2 separate regions of the Homo sapiens genome follow, and region 1 is linked to region 2. The links come from fine-mapping of genetic effects on gene expression. A gene starts in region 2. The other region holds a variant in brackets. All regions are shown on one strand. Distances are from middle to middle.

What was found.
Region 1: its variant is fine-mapped to the expression of EPHA10 in cerebral cortex (GTEx, PIP 0.99). The same link has a PIP of 0.9 or more in prefrontal cortex.

What each region holds. Positions count from the first base shown.
Region 1 is chr1:37,727,327-37,735,326 of GRCh38, forward strand. EPHA10 (EPH receptor A10) reads right to left here. Exons shown (of 17, transcript NM_001099439.2): 6 at 7,931-8,000; 7 at 4,085-4,256. Among named protein-coding and RNA genes, the nearest start is that of EPHA10, 34 kb to the right of the region's middle. RefSeq lists an enhancer at 1-283. The variant T/G (reference allele first, on the strand shown) is at 4,403.
Region 2 is chr1:37,762,064-37,773,718 of GRCh38, forward strand. It overlaps EPHA10 (EPH receptor A10), which reads right to left and starts at 3,057. Exons shown (of 17, transcript NM_001099439.2): 1 at 2,898-3,057; 2 at 722-786; 3 at 1-20. The coding sequence starts at 3,003. LOC105378650 (a long non-coding RNA gene) reads right to left here and starts at 5,253. Exons shown (of 3, transcript XR_947192.2): 1 at 5,133-5,253; 2 at 4,428-4,618; 3 at 3,666-3,830.

The DNA of each region.
Region 1 (8,000 bases), 37 kb before region 2:
ACTGCCTCCCAGCCACAGAGGCGCCAAGGCAGTCCCACTGACCACAGTGGCACCTGGAGTCCCAAGAGCTTCCTCTGCTCTCAGGGCAGAACACCTCCACAGCAGCCCAGCTCCTGCTCAGAGAGGCAGGAGTCCAGACAGGCAGGGCCAGGCCTCCCTCTATGCCTTTCAGATGAGCAGTGAGGGACTCAAAGTTGCTCTGCAGGAGGAATGGCCTCTGCTCTGAGCTCCCTACCCCCAGTCCAGACCATCCACCAACAATAATAAAAAGGGCTAACGGTAACTGCACCTTACTCCATTCAAGACACTGGGCCATGTGCCTACACTATACTGTCTTGTTTCATCTTCACAATAATCCAGGAAGGTATTACCATCTTCATCTTACAGCTGAGGAAACTGAGGTTGAGAAATTACATAATTTGCCCAAGATCACATGGCTAAAAAGTGGTGAACCTAAGATTTGAGCATCACTCCAAAAGTCTCTGCCTGATTCCAAAGCTTCTGCTTTGAACTATTTCTCCAAGAGATCAGCCTAGAGGACCCTCGCTCTCAGCCCTATTCATCGATCTATCCAATCAACCCATCCATCCATCCAACCTATGTGCCTGGTTTGCATTAGTACTGAGGAGAGAGGGGTGAATGGGCCTACGGGTGAGACAGAAACAAAAATCTTAACTGTAGAATGAAAAAAGAAACAGAAATGAGCAGAGCTGAGCAGAGGCACAATAATTTCTTCCTAAAGCCAATGAGGAAGGCTTCACAAAAAAAGGTGCCATCTGAACTGGACCTGGAGACTGGAAGGATTTTTGATGGTGCTTTGATGCACACACTGGGTCTGAAAATGGCAAGTCGTCCCCTGTGTCTGGGAAACAGACTGCATGAAGGCGGAGAGTGGCAAATAGGAAGCTGGAGGGTGGGAAGATGGAGGGAACTGGGGGAGCCAGAACCTGGAGGGCCTTGAACGCTAAGCTAAGGAGTATAAACTTTCTCCTGTGGGTGACAGGGAGCAGTGGAGAGAGTTCCTGCCTAAGAAGAAAAGGAATGAGGGTGTCTGCTGAGGTGGGAGTGAGGATGGAGAAGAGGTGCTTGAGAGAGGTGAAGGTTTGGCATAACTATTAGGAATGGGAAAAGTACTAAGTGGCCCTGAAGACTGAACTGAGATTGGAAAGTACACCTCTTTAGGCAGCTTCCGCGTGGGACACAGGGAGGAGAAAGGTCCAAGTCTGGGGACTAGCAGGTGGGTGCAGCAAGGTGCCCAGGGAATGAGGGTTGGCAGAGTTGGGGAGTATTTCTGATGAGATCATCTGCAGGGGCTGGATAGAGATGGGTGTGGGGCCAGGAGGAGCTAAAAGTCTGGGAGATGAGGTAGGATCCAGTGAGCAGTCTTTCGGATGTCACAGAGCAAGTGAGGAGGAACAGAAGACGAGAGTTAGAAGCCAAAAATGCTAGAGTCAGAGAGGGCATTTCAGAGCCCAGGGTTCCAGAGGCAAAGAGGGCTGAGGGTCTGGGTGGGGATAGAGGGGAATAGAGTTGCCAAGAACTGTTTGAAATGAGGCAACCATGTGGACACAGAAACGGAGAAAGATGCCAGCAGTGGGCAGTCTCTGAGATGGCATCCCTACCTCCTGGTATCCATTCCCCATGAGCACAGGCTGGACTCATTTCTAATGAACAGAATATGGCAAGAGTATTGGGATGTCATTCCCAAGATCAGGAAACAAGATGAATGGCTTCTGTCTTGGGTGCCCTCTCCCTGGCTCACAGTCTCTGGAAGAATCCAGTGGTTGTGGTGAGCAGCTCTAAGGAGAGGCCCATGGGACAAGGAACAGCATGCCTCAGCAGCAGCCAGCAAGACCCTGAGCAGGGAGGTGAACTCTCCCCCAGCTAAGCCCCGAGATGATCACAGCCCCTGAGGACAACTTGACGGCAGCCTTGGAAGAGACCCTAAGTCACTGGCACCTAGCTGAGAGGCACCTATATTACCAATCCATGGAAACATAAGATTATAAATATTTGTTGTTTTCACCTGCTAGATGTTGGGGCAACTCATTACATAGCAATAGGTAACTAGCACAGTGGTGACGCATAAGCGTTCACCAAGACCTTGATTTGGGGCTGGGCATGGTGGCTCACACCTGTAATCCTAACACTTTGGGAGGCCAAGACAGGAGAATTGCTTTGAGCCCAGGAGTTCGAGACCAGCCTGAGCAACATAGCAAGATTCCATCGCTCTTTTTAAAAAAAGAAAAAAGAAAAAGATCCTGCTTTGGAAGGCGGGGGGCAGTGGCTCAAACCTGTGATCCCAGCACTTTGGCAGGCCGAGTGGAGGGATCACCTGAGCCCAGGAGTTCGAAACCAGCCTGAGCAACATAGTGAGACCCCCAAAAAGTAAAAATATTAGCTGGTCATGGTGGCAAGCGCCTGTGGTCTCAGCTACTTGGGAAGCTGAGGTGGGAGGACCACTTAAGCCTGGAAAGTTGAGGCTGCAGGGAGCTGTGATTGTGCCACTACACTCCAGCCTGGGTGACACAGTAAGACCCTACCTCAAAAAAAAAAAAAAATCTCAATTTGGAGACACAGCTCATGGGAAACCACACTCTGCAGATTGGGAGAACCATAGCCAGGGCCACAAGAAGGGAGACTGGGGATCTCAGCAGTCTCTACTATCTGAGAGGTACCCAATGAATGGAGACCATCAGCCCTTCTCCACTGACGGTCCCCAGCTCCTGCCCCCACTACGCCCACTCCAGCCAAACCTGCCCGCCTTTGTTCAGATAGCTTCCTCTCCCCAGAATGCCTCCCTGCCCATCTGTACACATTCAAATGATCCCCAGCTATAATCTTCTCTTTCCAGCACCTGGCCGAGGTCTGACACTTTTTGCATTCAGGCGAGAAGTGTGGTCTTCCTTCCCAGAACTCAGACCCCTTCAGCATTTTATCTTCACTTCCCTTTGGACTCAGAGCTCTTCCTATCTTGGATTAGAGTCATGTAGCAGGTTGGAAAGAATTATTATCTTGACAGCTGGTGCCAGAATGCCTCTTAGGGGGAACTGCCTTTGTTCAGGAAAATATTTTCATGAGCTGCTCAGGGCAGATAGAGGTGAGATCCTGAGGACCAGGTTAGCAGCAGGCAAAGCAACAAGACAGCTAAACTGCTGTGCACACATCAGGGAATTGGGCAGTGGGTGGGGAGAAGAGGAACCAGGGGAGGGAAGTAAAGGAGGAGGGAGGAAAGCACAATATTGCGGAGAAGCCGGAGATGTTTTCAGATGAGGATATTCAATTTCCAGTTTTTGTTTGGTTTTGGTAACAGCTTTATTGAGATATCGTTCGCATACCATGTGATTTACCCACTTAAGTTACACAATCCTTCTTTTTTTTTTGAGACAGAGTCTCACTCTGTGACCTAGGCTGGAACGTAGTGGCATAATCTTGGCTCACTGCAACCTCTGCCTCCCGGTTTTAAGTGATTCTTGTGCCTCAGCCTCCCGAGTAGCTGGGATTACAGGTGCCCGCCACCACGCCCGGCTGATTTTTGTATTTTTAGTAGAGAAGGAGTTTCACCATGTTGGCCAGGCTGGTCTCGAACTCCTGACCTCAGGTGATCCACCTGCCTCAGCCTCCCAAAGTGCTGGGATTACAGGTGTGAGCCATCGCGCCTGGCCGCAATCCTTATTTTTGTGTTTATCACTGCAATGCAACCCCTTCATGTCCATCAACCTTCAGTGAAGTCAGCATCACGCTCTAAGGCCTAGTGGGGAAAGGGACAGTGTCCCATGTTTGGGTCTCTATCCAAACTGAGTCTCTATCCAGCTGAGACATGGGTTATAGCTGTTCACAAATCCCTCTCCTGTGAGCTCCTCCAGGACAGTTTCCCAATCTAATTCACGTCGGTGAACAGGCATTAGTCAGTGGATTTCAAAGTCATTAATTAATTAGGCTGTAATTAATTAAACTGTTCTGCAGGCTCCCTTCATTGCACAGATAACTCCAGATAACTCTCCCCCTCTATTTGTCTCCCTACCTCAGCCCCGTGCAGGGTTCTCTCTGTCTAGGTCCCTGTCCACTCACACACACTACTTACCCTCCCCCAGGGTCTGTACTTCAATGCTGGGGTTAAAACTCTGGGCCTCCCAGGATGGCCCCGGGGAAGCGGCCCGGATCTGAAAGACGTAGCGGGTAGCCGGCTTCAGGTTGGTGACGGTGACTGTGGGCGCCCCTGTCTTCACCATGGAGTAAGTCTGCTCACTCTGACCCTGGAGAGAGATCAAGAAGTGAAGCCCACCAGCGCCAGATCCACTGTTCTAGGAGAACAAAGGGTGAACAGGAACAGGGAGGCAGGAGAAGCGCCCTTACGTGAATGTGGGCTGAGTGCGAAAACCCAACCTCAATCATCTTGGGG[T/G]TTCCCAGGGATCTTTTCCTTGGATCCTTAGCCCCTGTCTTCACCACAAGCACCCACCCACACTCGGTGGCACTTGTAGCTGAGAATAGCACCACCTCTGCATAAGAGAAATTTTAGAGAAGACACCAGATCCTCCTTCCGGGGGATGATAGGATGAGGGCCACCAGGGCCTGTCCATCCAGGCTAAGCTGAGCCAGTGCCCTAGGCAGGCCTGAAGCCTCAAAGGACAGAATGAGAGAATGAGCCCTGACACATGAAAGCCCCCAATGGCCCACAAGGCTTTTCCTTTCCTCGATGTCTGATTTTTCACAACTGTCCTGCAAGGCTCAGAGGACAGAAAGTATTATCTTGTTTGTTTGTTTCACAGATAAGGAAACCCAGTTCAGAGGGGTAAAGACTCCCCCAAGGCCCCAGCTGGAGCCATCACTGATGAGCGCCTACTCAGTGCCAGCTTCTGCATGAGACCCTTTGCCTCCTGTGAGCCTCACAACAGCCCTGTGGAGTCAGCATTTCCATCTCCTTTTTAGGTGAGGTTCACATCAAGGAAGGGGCTGGTGCACCCTCTGAATCCCTGCAGAGCCCGTGTTTTTTGCTCGACATCATGCTGCCCCCCGCTCCACCCCAACACACCTGACAATGGCATACTAGAGATGCTCCTCCCGTCGTTTCGTCCCTGCCCACACCTTATTAGAGGCCCTGCCATATCCACAGCCCCAGAAAGTTATTCTCCCCACTGATATTCGGTGGCTCCAGCTTTCTGACCATAGCATTCAGGAACTGGGACGGACTTTGACCCAAGCTGGGCCAATCAGAATCTCTCTTCCAGGCATCTCAACAATCCATTGAAAGACAGAGAAGCAGTGGCTTCAGGACCCACAAGGTAGGGCAGGCTAGGGGCAGAGAGGAGGAAGGAGCAAGGCTGCCTACCTGGGCATTGGCAACGTGCCGTAAGCAAGCCCCTCTGCATCATGGGCTGGACTGGTGTGCAGAGAGAGGTTGAGATGAGCAGCACTGTGGCTCCAGAGGGGAGCTGCCAGACACCCGCCCAGGTCCAGTGGCCCAGCAAGGCTTCTACTCAGCAGGCTCCATGAGAGTACACTGAAGCCTTTCAAATATAGCCCTTTTATACTTGTTCTTTTTTTTTTTTTTTTTTTTTTTTTTTTTTTTTTTTTTTTTTTTGAGGCAGAGTCTTGCTGTGTCACCTAGGCTGGAATGCAGTGTGGTGCAATCTCGGCTCACTGCAACCTCCACCTCCTGGGTTCAAGCAATTCTCCCTGCCTCAGCCTCCTGAGTAGCTGGGATTACAGGCACCCACCACCATGTCTGGCTAATTTTTGTTTTTTTAATAGAGACTGGGTTTCGCCATGTTAGCCAGGCTGGTCTCGAACTCCTGACCTCAGGTGATCCACCTGCCTTGGCCTCTCGAAGTGCTGGGATTACAGGCGTGCACCACCACGCCCGGACTTGTTCCTTCTTTTTTGTTGTTTTTGGGGGTTTTGGTGGGTTTTTTTGAGACAGGGTCTCGCTCTGTTGCCCAGGCTGGAGTGCAGTGGTGCAACCACTGCTCACTGCAGCCTCGACTTCCCGGGCTCAAGCGATCTTCCTGCTTCAGCATCCCAAGTTGCTGGGACCACAGGCGCACACCACCATGCCTGGCTAATTTCTTTTTTGTAGAGGTGGCGGTCTCACTTTGTTGCCCAGGCTGGTCTTGAACTCCTGGCCTCAAGCCGTCCTCCCGTCTCAGCTTCCCAAAGTGCTGGAATCACAGGTGGTAGCCACTGAGCCTGGCCCTTGCTCCTCTTTTTGAGGGTTTTCATGCCCAACAACCTGGGAGCATCCACCCAGCTCAACCTTGGGGCTCTTGTCTATACCCTGATCCTCAAAGTCCATTCAGTGAGTCCTTTCTAAGCACCTGCTTCCCAGTGTCCTTTGCTGCTCTCCCTAAACATCAGCATTCCTCAGGGCTCTGTCCTGGCCACTCTTCTCAGACACATTCCCCTTCTCATTCCTCTCCCCCAATTTCTCCCCTGGCAGCAGCTACTGTCTCTATGCTGAGAGCCCCCAACACTCTCACTCTCTCTCTCTCTCTTTCTCTCCCTTTCCAAGCCAGGCCTCTCCCTTAAGCTTCAGACCTGCAAGTCTACCTGGGTGTCCCAGAGGCCCCCTGAATGCTAGATGAGCAAAACCAGGTTCATCACCTTGCTCCAAGCCTGCCCTTCCACCTCAGTGCTTCTCCATCTCAGTCAGTGGTACCTCAGACTCTGGGTTACCCAGGTCAGACACCCAGCAGTGACTCAGGACTCTCTCCTCCTTCCCACTCATCCCCAACACTCACAGGTCTCAACAGACTTCCAGTATTCAAAAACTATTTTCAGCAAAGGAGTCCCTCATGTCATTGAGGAGTGAGTGAAGTTCTGACACATGTAGAAGCTGAAAGAGGTTTCACTTCAGTGAATATAATTTGCACCAAGGTGAGAAACAGTTTAACAGTAGTTTGCATATCAGATTTAAAGATAATAAATTGGCCAGGTGCAGTGGCTCACACCAGTAATCCCAGCACTTTGGGAGGCTAAGGCGGGTGGATCACCTGAGGTCAGGAGATATAGACCAGCCTGGCCAACACGATGAAACCTCGTCTCTACTAAAAATACAAAAATGAGCTGTGTGTAGTTGTGCATGCCTGTAATCCCAGCTACTTGGGAGGCTGAAGCAGGAGAATCACTTGAACCTGGGAGACGGAGGTTGCAGTGAGCCGAGATCATGTCACTGCACTCCAGCCTGGGTGACAAGAATGAAACTCTGTCTCAAAATAAATAAATAAATAAATAAATAATAAAGGTAATAAACTTACGGGGAAAAGAGCAGATTGGGATGTGACTCCATTTGTTACATCACAGCTAAGCTGCAACCACAGATTGACAATGGATACAAGAGGTCAGCAAAAATCAGCACAAGTATCCTATGGGGATCAATTGGCCATATGGAGTTCACAATCAAGAGTTCTGAACATATTTTATTATCACTGTAAATGCTGTGCTACACTTTTTTATATGACTGGAATTATAATAACTCATACATTTATTGTTCTGGAAAGCTGGCTGTTAAATATCTACCAGCACACCACCACACCCAGCAATGTGCTCCATGGTCAGGCACTTTTGTAAAATTAGAAATGATATGATCTTTCTGTGTCCTTTTTCTTTAAAAGGGCTCTACAAATGATACGTATAAGATTCAGCCACACAAAATCTGGACCGGGCCCCAGAGAAAGCTCTTTGTCAACCGAAACACTAGGTGACATGGGGACAATGGAGATGGTTGGTGTTGGAGATAGACCTGAGCGGAGGGAGGAAGAGCAGGAGTCCGGGGGAGGAGGGGGAGACTCGAGCCTGGGGCCCCTAGGAGACGGGTGGTTATGTTTACAAAGGGAGTAACGAGGGCTTTTGCTGGGAGGATGGCCTGAAGAACCAGAAGCCCTGCGGGACAGGTGCGGGGCAGGCTCCAGGTCCCTCCCAGACACGCACTCACCTTCTCGTAGTATCGGATCTCGTACTCCGTGTCATTGGCCCCAGGGGCTCCGGCAGGGATGGGCTCCCGC
Region 2 (11,655 bases):
ACGCCGCTGATCTCCTCCCACTGGGGACAAGAGTAAAGGGGTGGGCAGCCCAGAGCCAAAGTGCTTCCAGGAGGTGGAGCGCTAGCAGTGACTCCTGCTTTCTCTCTCATGCACCATGCACACCCCGGAAATTGTAAGATGCAGCGCTGGGAGAAACTTTGGAAACAAATGATCCCAATCCTTATTTTTATAGATGGGGAAACTGAGGCTCCAGAGGGAGAGCGATCTGACCAGGTATGCACATCAAGTTAGTGGTGGAGCTAGGAATGGTGCCTGTAGTTTCCTGACTCTCTGACCAGTGCCCTTTGCACTCCACCAAGCTGCTGTTACAGCCCACATCATCCTCCCCTACCCCAAGTCTCCAAGCCTCTTTTAGGACTCCCAGTCTTGCTTGCTGTGTCAATCAATCAACAACATTGCTTGGAGGATCTACTACTATGTGCAAGCCACTGTCCTGTATTAGCTCCATCCAGATGCCACATTTCTGTTCCTAGACAGCCAGTTCTCTCCTCACTTATTCACTTTTTTTTTTTTTTTTGACTGTCTAACTGGCTGAAGACTCAATGTTTTCTAACAGGCCACTCTGGCTTGAAGCCAGGGCTGCTGGAGACCACACACTCTGAGGAGCACTTTTGTCTGATGTAAACATGAGGAGCTGAGGAGACTGTGTCCTGGACCACCAGAGGATCCCTGGGACAGGGAGGGACACTTGTGCACTTACCCCATTACTTGGCAGTGCAGTCCAGCCCAGCTCGGCCTGGGAGGCTTTGGAATCCAGGAGGATAACTAAGGAGAGGGGAAGACAGAAATATCAGAAATCGAGAAGGTCAGTTTAGCAAGAGAGTGGAATCCTTTGGTGAAGTCCCTGTAAATTTGCTGAGAGAATGCAATATGTGACAAATGATATGGGCAAGTTTTTCCCACTCCATACATCCCCAGGAGGGGTGTGAATAGCTCAAATCCAGAGAGAGGTAGCCACAGTCAGTAGGGAAGGAGCTTGTATTCAGTTCCTGGGGCTGCTGTAACATATTACCACAAATTTAGTGGCTTAAAACAACACAATATTTTTCTGTTACAGTTCTGGAGGTCAGAAGCCCAAAGCCACTTTCACTGGTCTAGAGTCAAGGTGTCAGCAGGACTGTTTTCTTTTGGAGGCTCTGAGGGGAGAACTCATGTCCTTACCATCTTCAGCGTCTGGTGGCCGCCTGTAGTCCCTAGCTTGTGGTCCCCTCCTCCATCTTCAAATCACATCACTTTAATCTCTGCCTCAGTCATCACACTGCCTCCTCCTCTGACTCTGGCTCCTCCTGCACCCCTCATACAAGGACCATTGTGATTATTGGGCCCATCCAGATAATCTAAAACAACCTCTCCATCTCAAAAGATCACTAATCACATATGCAAAGTCCTTTTTGTCAATTAAGCTAACATTCACGGTTCTAGGGATTAGGACATTGACATATTGGGGGTGGGGGTCATCATTCAGCCTTCTACAGGGTCCATGGCAAATACTCTAAGGTTGGCTCTCAGATTGGGGGTGGGAGTCAGTGACTCTCCCCAGCCTTCTTAGGTTCCCAAAATTATAGCTAAGAGTCAATTAGAGAGAGAGAGAGAGAGAAAGTGAGTAGTGAATGTATCAGGGGATTCCTGTATATACCCCCCAATCCACTCCTACTCAGGGGCTTTTCTGAGGTCGGTGGTCCCCAGGCATGAAGACTTGAACATTTTTAGACTGACTCCCGGGCCTCTGAGAAAACAATGTGGAGAGATACTGCTAACAACTGGAGAAATAAAATCTCTCTTCTCCTCAGCCAGCCCTTTTCCCAGGGGCTGTCACTTCCACTGCTTTTGAAAGAATGTCTGGGGTTCTTTTATGTATACATCTATGACCCTTCCTACCAGAGAAGCTTGAAGTCCCTTTATTCCCCCAGGAGGCATCGGATCAGCAGCCTGCAACCTCTCAGCATGGATCACAGAAAATGGTTTGGACAGCAGAGTCCGCAGACCAGAGACAGGAGGTCAGGACACCCCGGAGTCTTGGGAGATTACCCTCTGGAGCTTAAACCAGGGGGTGGGCCACCAAGGTGAGGGCCTCTCCAGAGGCGTCAGCGACTGTGGGCAGGACCGCCGACGGCTTTCCGAGATCCGCGCAACTGACAGCACATCGGAATCGCGAACTGGAAGGCATCAGCCATCCAGGGCCCAGACCAACCCCGCGGTCAACGCCTCAGATTCCAGCTCCTCCGGATTCTGCACCTAGATATGACGCCTCTGGATTCAACTGAGCGTATAGCTCCCCTAAATGCACAATCAGAGGCAAGACGCGGGCTCCAGTATCGCCGACAGCCTCAAACCCGGCAACGCGGAGCGCGCCCGGCAGACTACGCTCAGAATTCAGCACTGCGGACAGTTCCATGATCAGCACGTCGGGCAGCGCCCGGATCCAGCCCCCTCGACCAGCATTCCACCTTCTGTTGGCCACACTGTGGTCTCCTAGCCCCTGTAGTCCGGGCTCCATCCCGTCTCCCCATATTCCGAGCTCACCTCCGCATCTCCCTGTCTCCACTCTTCATCTCCCCGCCCCCGCACCTCCCACCTCCAATCACTCAGCTTGTCCGTCTCACCGGCCGCTGGACCGCCGCCTCTGGCTCCCGCGGTTCCTGGCCTCTTTCTTTCCCAACCTCCCGGGTCTCCAGCCCCCAAGCTCCTCAGCGCCCCTCTCTTCGCTACTGCTTGATCACATTTTTCTCTGTCTCTCCAGTTCTTTGCTGCCTGCTTGCTTCAAGCCCCAATACAGACTCTAGTCTCTCCAATGACTCCTTCCCCCAGAACCCCCATCGCCAGCCCCCTATCTTTTGGTATGCCACGCTCCGAGCAGAGCTCACCAGTCTTCTCACCTTCCTCGGCGGTCCCAGGCCGCCAGGGTCCCAAAAGCAGCGCGAGACAGAGCTGCATCCGGCAGAGGAAGAGGCGCAGCGGGTGTGGACCGGCGCAGGTCTCCATGGTCCGCAGACCGAGCTGTCAGTCCGGCGGCGGCTCAAGCCGCGCCAGCCTAGCACCGCTGAGCAATGCCCCCAGACCCCAGAGCCAGCGGGGGGCGGAGTCTCACCGCTCACCATCATCCATGGGAACCAATCACTAGGCACCGCCGCGGGATGCCAACCAATCCCCGCCAGCAGAGGGTGGGAAGGTGGAGTTTCATAGGCCAGGGGCGGAACACCCAACTGGTGGGGAAAGGAAGGGGTCCTGCAGATCTCCAAACCGTGGGGGGTGGGGCAGCTGTGGGAGCTGGCAGGGCTTCTGCGAGAGGGGAATGAGCTGGCATCGGTGGCCCAGAGCGCTAAACCTTAGCTCCTCATTCCTGAGAAGTAGGCAGGCAAGGTGGGCTTGGCTTAAGGAGGGGCGACCCTCGGGGAGGCAGCAACACTTGCAGCCTCTGAGCTAGTCTGAAAGCTCCCTTGTTCCCAGGACTTGCGGGGTTTTGAAGCTTTATGTCCTGACCCCAAGCTCTGGGGAGCTCTCCTGTCTCCCTGCCCTAGGTCTGTTCCTGTGTCTGAGGCTCCCGGTGTCTCCTAGCTCATCCCCCCCTTTCTCTTCCCGCCCTCATCACACACACACACACACACACACACACACACACACACACACACACACAGCGGCAGGAAGGAGGGGCCGAACGATCCCGGGAGCTGCTCGGGAAAGGAGAGCAAAGTGAGGGACGGGGTCCTGCCCTACCAACGCGCTTCCGAGGCTGGGAAACCATGTGGACGCTGGGATGGGGGCGGTGGCGGTTTTGCATGAACGATCGGTTCCTCAGGTTCTTGCTCCTGCTGTCAAGATACAAGCAGCACACCTCACAACCACCCATGCCCTCAGTCTGCTCAGAGTCGGGGGTTCCCCTCTTTGATCACCCCACTCCGCCCACCCCAGGGGACTGGTGAACAGCACAGAGGCCAGGAATCGGAGACATCTGCGAGAGAGGCGGAGCAATCCTGGCAGAGTTCAGCCGGCGCTGAAGAAGCCGCAAGAAAACGTGGAACAAGACCTCTGTCTAGTGAAGGTCATTTATGTGCAAGCTGAGGGTTTAACACTTTGGTGGTGGGAAGGGTTGGGGCCCTCCAGGACGAGGGAGGCGGCTACTGAGCGCCACCATCTGGGCTGAACTTGAGGGGAGAAAGCTCCACCCACCTCGTGGCTTTTCCGAGCTCTTTTCTTGGGGGACCCACCCCCTCTCTATTTGGAAGCGAATATAGCCTGAGAAACCTCGAGAGTGAGTGTGAGTCCTGTGACTACTTGGCCCCTGCGGTCTGAGTGTCTGTGCTTTTGCATATATGTATCCCTCACCCCTCTACCCAGCCCTCACTGGGCGCCATGCTCTGTGCTGCGGATGCCCTGGTGAACCACGCTGTCTCTGCCAGAGTCCATACCTCTTTGAACGCCGAGTGTAAGGAGGATTCCTGGCATCGTAGATCACTGGCCATTTACAACCCGCTTTCATGTGCCATTTCTGCGTGTGTGCTTGTGTATATGTGCGAGTAAATGCACACGTGCCCACTCAGACATACTTGCTGGACAGTAGCAATAGGAGGAGTAGGTGGGAGGAATTGGTCTTCTTTACCTGCAGAAAGAAAGGTCATCAGGAGAGGCTGTGGCTTGGACACCACAGGAGACAAGCCCCCTGAGGAAGCAGAAGGAGGTGTGGCATCCCTCCAGTCCTTGGATGCAGGCGGGACTTCTAAAACCAGACCTACCTGAGGAAGGGTTCTCACACTGCCACCTCCTTTCCATCTTCATTCTCCTCACGCTCGATTTCTCCCCTCCCCCTGCCTCCACCTCTGGGAGATGGTATTTTTAGAAGCTGCTTAGAGACCCAGGACTCCTTTCATTTCAAAATGAGTCCTCACTCCACCACCCCTCACTCCTCTTTAAAACCGGGTTCCATCCCCTTAGCAGGCTCTAAGGCACCAATCATGGCTTCTTACTGAAGCTCCAGGGACTTCAGCCCAGAGGTTCTGACCCTCGGTGCTAAAACAAAATACAGACTTCCTCTGAACCTGACAAGGATCTTTCAGAAACCAAACAGATGGGGGAAATTATCTGGGGAAATCTACATAGGATGCTCTGGCAAATACCTGACTGTTGGAGTCTGGTTTCTACCCTCTTCCACCACACACACCTTCACGCATCTGGGGGAAATTTCCAGACAGAGACCCTAGGAATAGGGGGAAAGAAGAGGAAAAAAAAGGAGTGAAATAATCCTTCCCTTTCTTCCTCTGAGCAATTCATTTACAATAAAACCAGAATGGAGAAGCCCCAGTGAATGCAGATATATGCAAATCAGCTGGATGTTAATAAGAGTTGCTCTAAGGCGGACCCCACTCTACCAGGAAGCCGCAGAACTGAAAGCTCAGTAAAGAAATTCCGGAGGGCCTTAGAAGGAAACCAACCCATTGTTTATCTCGACCTTTAAGTGCTGGGGGCCAGTTAACTAATGGAAGGGGTTAGGTTCCTCCCAGGAATAGCAATGGGGACTAGTGAAATTGGGGGTGGGGACAGAGAAGGGGTATCTGTCTATGGCATTCAACCCTCAGCCCTCAGCAGCTTTGGGCTGCTTTCTGTCTATGGTGCTGAATCCAACAGAGTCTGGACATTCAGTTAGACCTCGGACTTCTCTGCTGCCATGTTCTGATCCTTGGCAGGATCATAAAGAGTAAGTAGTTTTGCTTCATAATCTTAAAGATTTTCTCTGCTTAATTTTCAAAATTAGTAAATTAAATGCTTTATATTTCCTTTACCTAAGAAAATACAGTGGTTGCATCTGCTCCTCCGGCCTATAACCAAAATCCATCAATTCATGTCTTCAGGAGATAAGCACCCTTCACTCCCTTGCAGAAGGGTGGAGGGGCCTGGAACCCACCCAGAAACATCTTGTTTTCTCTTTTGCTCCTCTCAGAACTCTACTGAAGCAGGCTGGAAGGGATACTCCTCTCTACTTCTACCTCACTATCTTCTAGGATCATGGGGAGGACACTTGATGAGGCCGAGCAACTTAATTAAACACCCAAAATAATAAAAAGTGACCTTCCAGGGAGCAGATTTAATGTTACCACAACCTCCATCTCCAAGTTACTGAAAGTTACAAATCTAGGTGCTGAAGATTTGACCTCTTCCTTTTGCACAGATACAGAAAGTATGTTGAGCCTGACTGGACAGAGAAGGTTATCTCCTCCATAAAGAAGTTTAAGTTTGTGTCAGAGGAATCAGGGTCAAGTCCCACTCTCAGGAAGAAGGATGGGGAGAGGCAAAGAGCAGTGAGAGCTTTATTGTTCAAAGGGTCATCTTTTTTTTTTTTTTGAGACAGTGTCTCACTCTGTTGCCCAGGCTGGAGTGCAGTGGCCTGATTTCAGTCCACTGCAACCTCTGCTTCCCAGGTTCAAGCGATTCTCCTGCCTCAGCCTCCCAAGTAGCTGGGACTACAAGTGCACACCACCACAGCTGGCTAATTTTGTATTTTTAGTCGAGATGGGGTTTCGCCATGTTGGCCAGGCTGGTCTCAAACTCCTGACCTCAAGTGATCCACCCACCTCAGCCTCCCAAAGTGCTGGGATTATAGGCATGAGCCACCATGCCTGGCCTAAACTGTATTTTCTTAGATAAAGGAAGCACAAAGCATTTAATTTACTAATTTTGAAAATTCAGCAGAGAAAACCTTTAAGATTATGAAACACAACCACTTACCCTTTATGAGCCTCCACTTCTTTCTTTGTAAAATAGGAACAAAAACAGTTTTCAGAGTTATTGTGAGGTCAGAATATAATTTTTACATGTGACCCAGCTCTGTGCTTGGCACATAGCTCTGGTATATATTATTTTTCAACTCCATGGTTAATTAAGGTAAACAACAACAACAACAAACAAACAAACAAAAAACAGAAGAAAAAAGGAAAAGAAGTCTGGGCACGGTGGCTTACACCTGTAACCACAGCACTTTGGGAGGCTGAGGCGAATGGATTACCTGAGGTCAGGAGTTCGAGACCAGTCTGGCCAACATGGTGAAACTCCATCTCTACTAAAAGTACAAAATAGCTGGACATAGTGGTGTGCACCTGTAGTCCCAGCTACTCAGGAGGCTGAGGCAGGAGAATTGCTTGAACTCGGGAGGCAGAGGTTGCAGTGAGCCGAAATTATGCCATTGCACTCCAGCCAGAGCAAAAAAGAGAGAAATTCCGTCAAATAAAAAAAAAAAAGATAAAGGAAGATTAAGTGGTGAAGTAGGAAGAGAGAAAGATATATATAATTAGAGAGAGAGAGTCATAGAGGAAAAGACAGAATGAGGGATAAAGAAAGAGACAGCTGATTGAGATGAATGTGGCTAGGAAGCACAGGAGTCTGAAAGAAATGTGCTTGAAGAGACAGGAGTGTCATCAGGGCAGGCTGGCTGGCCAGCTGACAAGTGGCATCAGAGGTGACTTTTACCTTGGTAAATTCATCATGGTCCAGGCTTATGAACTTGACTTTAACAGCATTAAGAGAGAACCTATCTATTGGGGAATGGAAAGTAGATCCTACTAACCCAGCTCCTATCCTGCTATCTGAGCCAGAGAAGCAATGTATTAATTTATGATGAGAAATAGAACTGCCAAGGGGACCAGAATGCTCACAATGCCATGTCCAGCACATTCTTTCCCCGTAGGAAAATATGCACAGGAAGCCAATTTATGATGTGAAGACAGCTTTGAGAGTGGGACGGGAGGGAGGTGAATGGTTTAAATATTTGATGGCATCAGGCTCGGATAGCTTTGTGCCTCCAAATCCCCAGAAGGAATAAACCTGCTACTGGCACCTGAGTAACTGTGTAGGGGCCAGGACTGGGATGGAATATACAAATATGTGCTTCTCTGACTCTCTCTCTCTCTCTCTCTCTCTCTCCCTAATACATATATACATACACACACACATACACACACACACACACACACACACACACACATATATATATATATACACATACATATATTTATGTATGTATTAGAGACAAGCACTCTGTTGCCCAGGCTGGAGTGCAGTGGTGCAATCATAGCTCACTGCAGCCTCAACCTCCTGGGTTCAAGCAATCCTCCAACCTCCTGGGTAGCTAGGACTACAGGCACACACCACCATGCTCATAATTCTTTTTATTTTTTCTTTTGTAGAGACAGGGTATCACTATGTTCCCCAGGCTGGTCTCAAAGTCTGGCCTAAAGTGATCCTCCTGCCTCGACCTCCCAAAGCATTGGGATTACAGGTGTGGACCACCATATCCAGCCTTCTGACTCTATATTTTTGTTCTAGCTCTACTTCTGAGCAGCCCATTTTTAGATTGAAGTTCTTTTAAATTTAAATCACCAAAGTAATATAAACTAATGAAAATTGTATAAGTAAAAATATCCATCCTTTCCACTCCAGATAGTCCCCCTCCCAAATTTAAATTCTGCTAAAGATTGATATGTACAATTCCTGATATTTTCTACCCACACACACAACTTTACAGAAAATTAATACATCTATTAGTGTCATAAACACTGTTGATTATTTACCCAATAGCTTTCCCCTTTCATATTTTATATTGCTGGCAGAGTCCCAGTTTTATTTGGATGTTCTTCTACTGTAGTTGTTTGCTAGTGAAAGATGATCCTCTCCCCAAGTTCAGGGATAAGTAAAGATTGCTGTTTGGTAATCATTCCCATCCCATTCCATGTAGTGTGTGATTACAACCCTGGCCTTCTGAATTAGAAATTATAGAAAAGATTTTCACTCCTAATAAACAGAGATGGATGACAGGCAGCATTCCACTTCTTCTCTGGATGTCATGTCTGCATTTGACACCTGGAGCTGCTGCAGCCATTATTACAACATCATGAAGGGGGATATCTCCACATTGGCAGTTAAGATTTTTCAGTCGTGTTTAACAGGAAACCAAATAAAACTGGCTTAAACAAAAATGAGATTGTATTGGTTGATATAATTGGATAGGAGTAGATCTGTATAGAACAGTAAGATTTTGCATTGGAATTCTGGTAGAGTGCAAAATCACCAAACCTGGATACTCTAAAAAAGAATGCAATTGAAATCCTAGAACTGAAAAATATAATAATTGAATTTAACATAGTAGATGGAGCTGATAGCAGGTTAGACACAGCTAATTCTAGGATTAATGATGTGAAATATAGTTTCAGCATAAAATATCTAGTATCAGAAGAGAGAAAAGAATTGAAAATAGGCATGGGCAAGGACTTCATGTCTAAAACACAAAAAGCAATGGCAACAAAAGCCAAAATTGACAAATAGGATCTAATTAAACTAAAGAGCTTCTGCACAGCAAAAGAAACTACCATCAGAGTGAACAGGCAACCTACAGAATGGGAGAAAATTTTTGCAATCTGCTCATCTGACAAAGGGCTAATATCCAGAATCTACAATGAACTCAAACAAATCTACAAGAAAAAAACAAACAACCCCATCAACAAGTGGGCAAAGGATATGAACAGACACTTCTCAAAAGAAGACATTTATGCAGCCAAAAGACAGATGAAAAAGTGCTCATCATCACTGGCCATCAGAGAAATGCAAATCAAAACCACAATAAGATACCATCTCACACCAGTTAGAATGGCAATCATTAAAAAGTCAGGAAACAACAGGTGCTGGAAAGGATGTGGAGAAATAGGAACACTTTTACACTGTTGGTGGGACTGTAAACTAGTTCAACCCTTGTGGAAGTCAGTGTGGCCATTCTTCAGGGATCTAGAACTAGAAATACCATTTGACCCAGCAATCCCATTACTGGGTATATACCCAAAGGATTATAAATCATGCTGCTATAAAGACACATGCACATATATGTTTATTGTGGCACTATTCACAATAGCAAAGACTTGGAACCAAGCCAAATGTCCAACAATGATAGACTGGATTAAGAAAATGTGGCACATATACACCATGGAATACTATGCAGCCATAAAAAATGATGAGTTCATGTCCTTTGTAGGGACATGGATGAAGCTGGAAACCATCATTCTCAGCAAACTATCACAAGGACAAAAAACCAAACACTGCATATTCTCACTTATAGGTGGGAATTGAACAATGAGAACACATGGACACAGGAAGGGCAGGCAACATCACACACCGGGACCTGTTGTGGGGTGGGGGGAGGGGGGAGGGATAGCATTAGGAGATATACCTAATGTTAAATGATGAGTTAATGGGTGCAGCACACCAACATGGCACATGTATACATATGTAACTAACCTGCACGTTGCGCACATGTACCCTAAAACTTAAAGTATAATAAAAAATATATATATAGGTAAGAGAGAAAGAGACATATGGGACATGGCAAAAAGGCCTAAATACATGGAATTAGAGTCCTAGAAAGAGGAAACAGGAAAGAAGTACTATTTGAAAAGAGAGTAGTTGAAAATTTTCCAAAATTGATGAAAGATATCAAGACACATACTCAAGAAGCACTATCAATCCCAAGCAGGATAAATGCAAAGAAAACTACACTTTTTTTTTTTGAGACAGCGTCTCACTCTGTCACCCACGCTGGAGTGCAGTGGTGTCATGTCGGCTCACTGCAACCCTCTGCCTCCCGGGTTCGAGCAATCCTCCTGCCTCAGCCTCCCGAGTAGCTGAGGCACGTGCCACCATGCCCAGCTAATTTTTGTATTTTTATTAGAGACAGGGTTTTGCCATGTTGGCCAGGCTTGTCTCAAACTCCCTACCTCAAGTGATCTGCCCACCTCGGCCTCCCAAAGTGCTGAGATTATAAGCATGAGCCACCACAGTTGGCCGAAAACTGTATTTAAGCATTTCATAATAAAACTGCTGAAAACCAAAGACAAAGAAAAAATATTAAAAGCAATTAGAGAGGGAGAGACACATTACCTTCAAAGGAACAACATTAAGACTGACAATGGTGGAGTGTGGTGGCTCATGCCTGTAATACCAGCACTTTGGGAGGCCGAGGCAGGCGGATCACCTGAGGTCAGGAGTTCAAGACCAGCCTGGCCAACATGGTGAAACCCCATCTCTACTAAAAATACAAAAATTAACCAGGCATGGTGGCACGCTCCCATAGTCCCAGCTACTGGGGAGGCTGAGGCAGGAGGATTGCTTGAACCTGGGAAGTGGAGGTTGCAGTGAGCCAAGATTGCACCACTGCACTCCAGCTTGGGCGATAGAGTGAGACTCTGTCTCAAAACAAACAAACAAACAAAACACACACACACACACGTACACACACACACACACATGAACAACTTTGGTTAGGCATGGTTGCTCATGCCTGTAACCCCAGCACTTTGGAAGGCCAAGGAAGAAGGATCACTTGAGGCCAGGAGTTCAATATCAGCCTAGGCAACACAGCGAGACTCCATCTGTACAAAAAAAAATACAAGAATTAGCCAGACATGATGGTGTGCACCTGTAGTCCCAGCTACTCAGGAGGTTGTAGTGGGGGATCACTTGACCCAGCAGGTTGAGGCTACAGTGAGCTAGGATCACACCACTGCACTCCAGCCTGGGCAACAGAACAAGACTGTCTCAATTTTTTGAAAAAAGGGCTGAGGCCAGGCACAGTGGCTCATGCTTGTAATCTCAGCACTTTGGGAG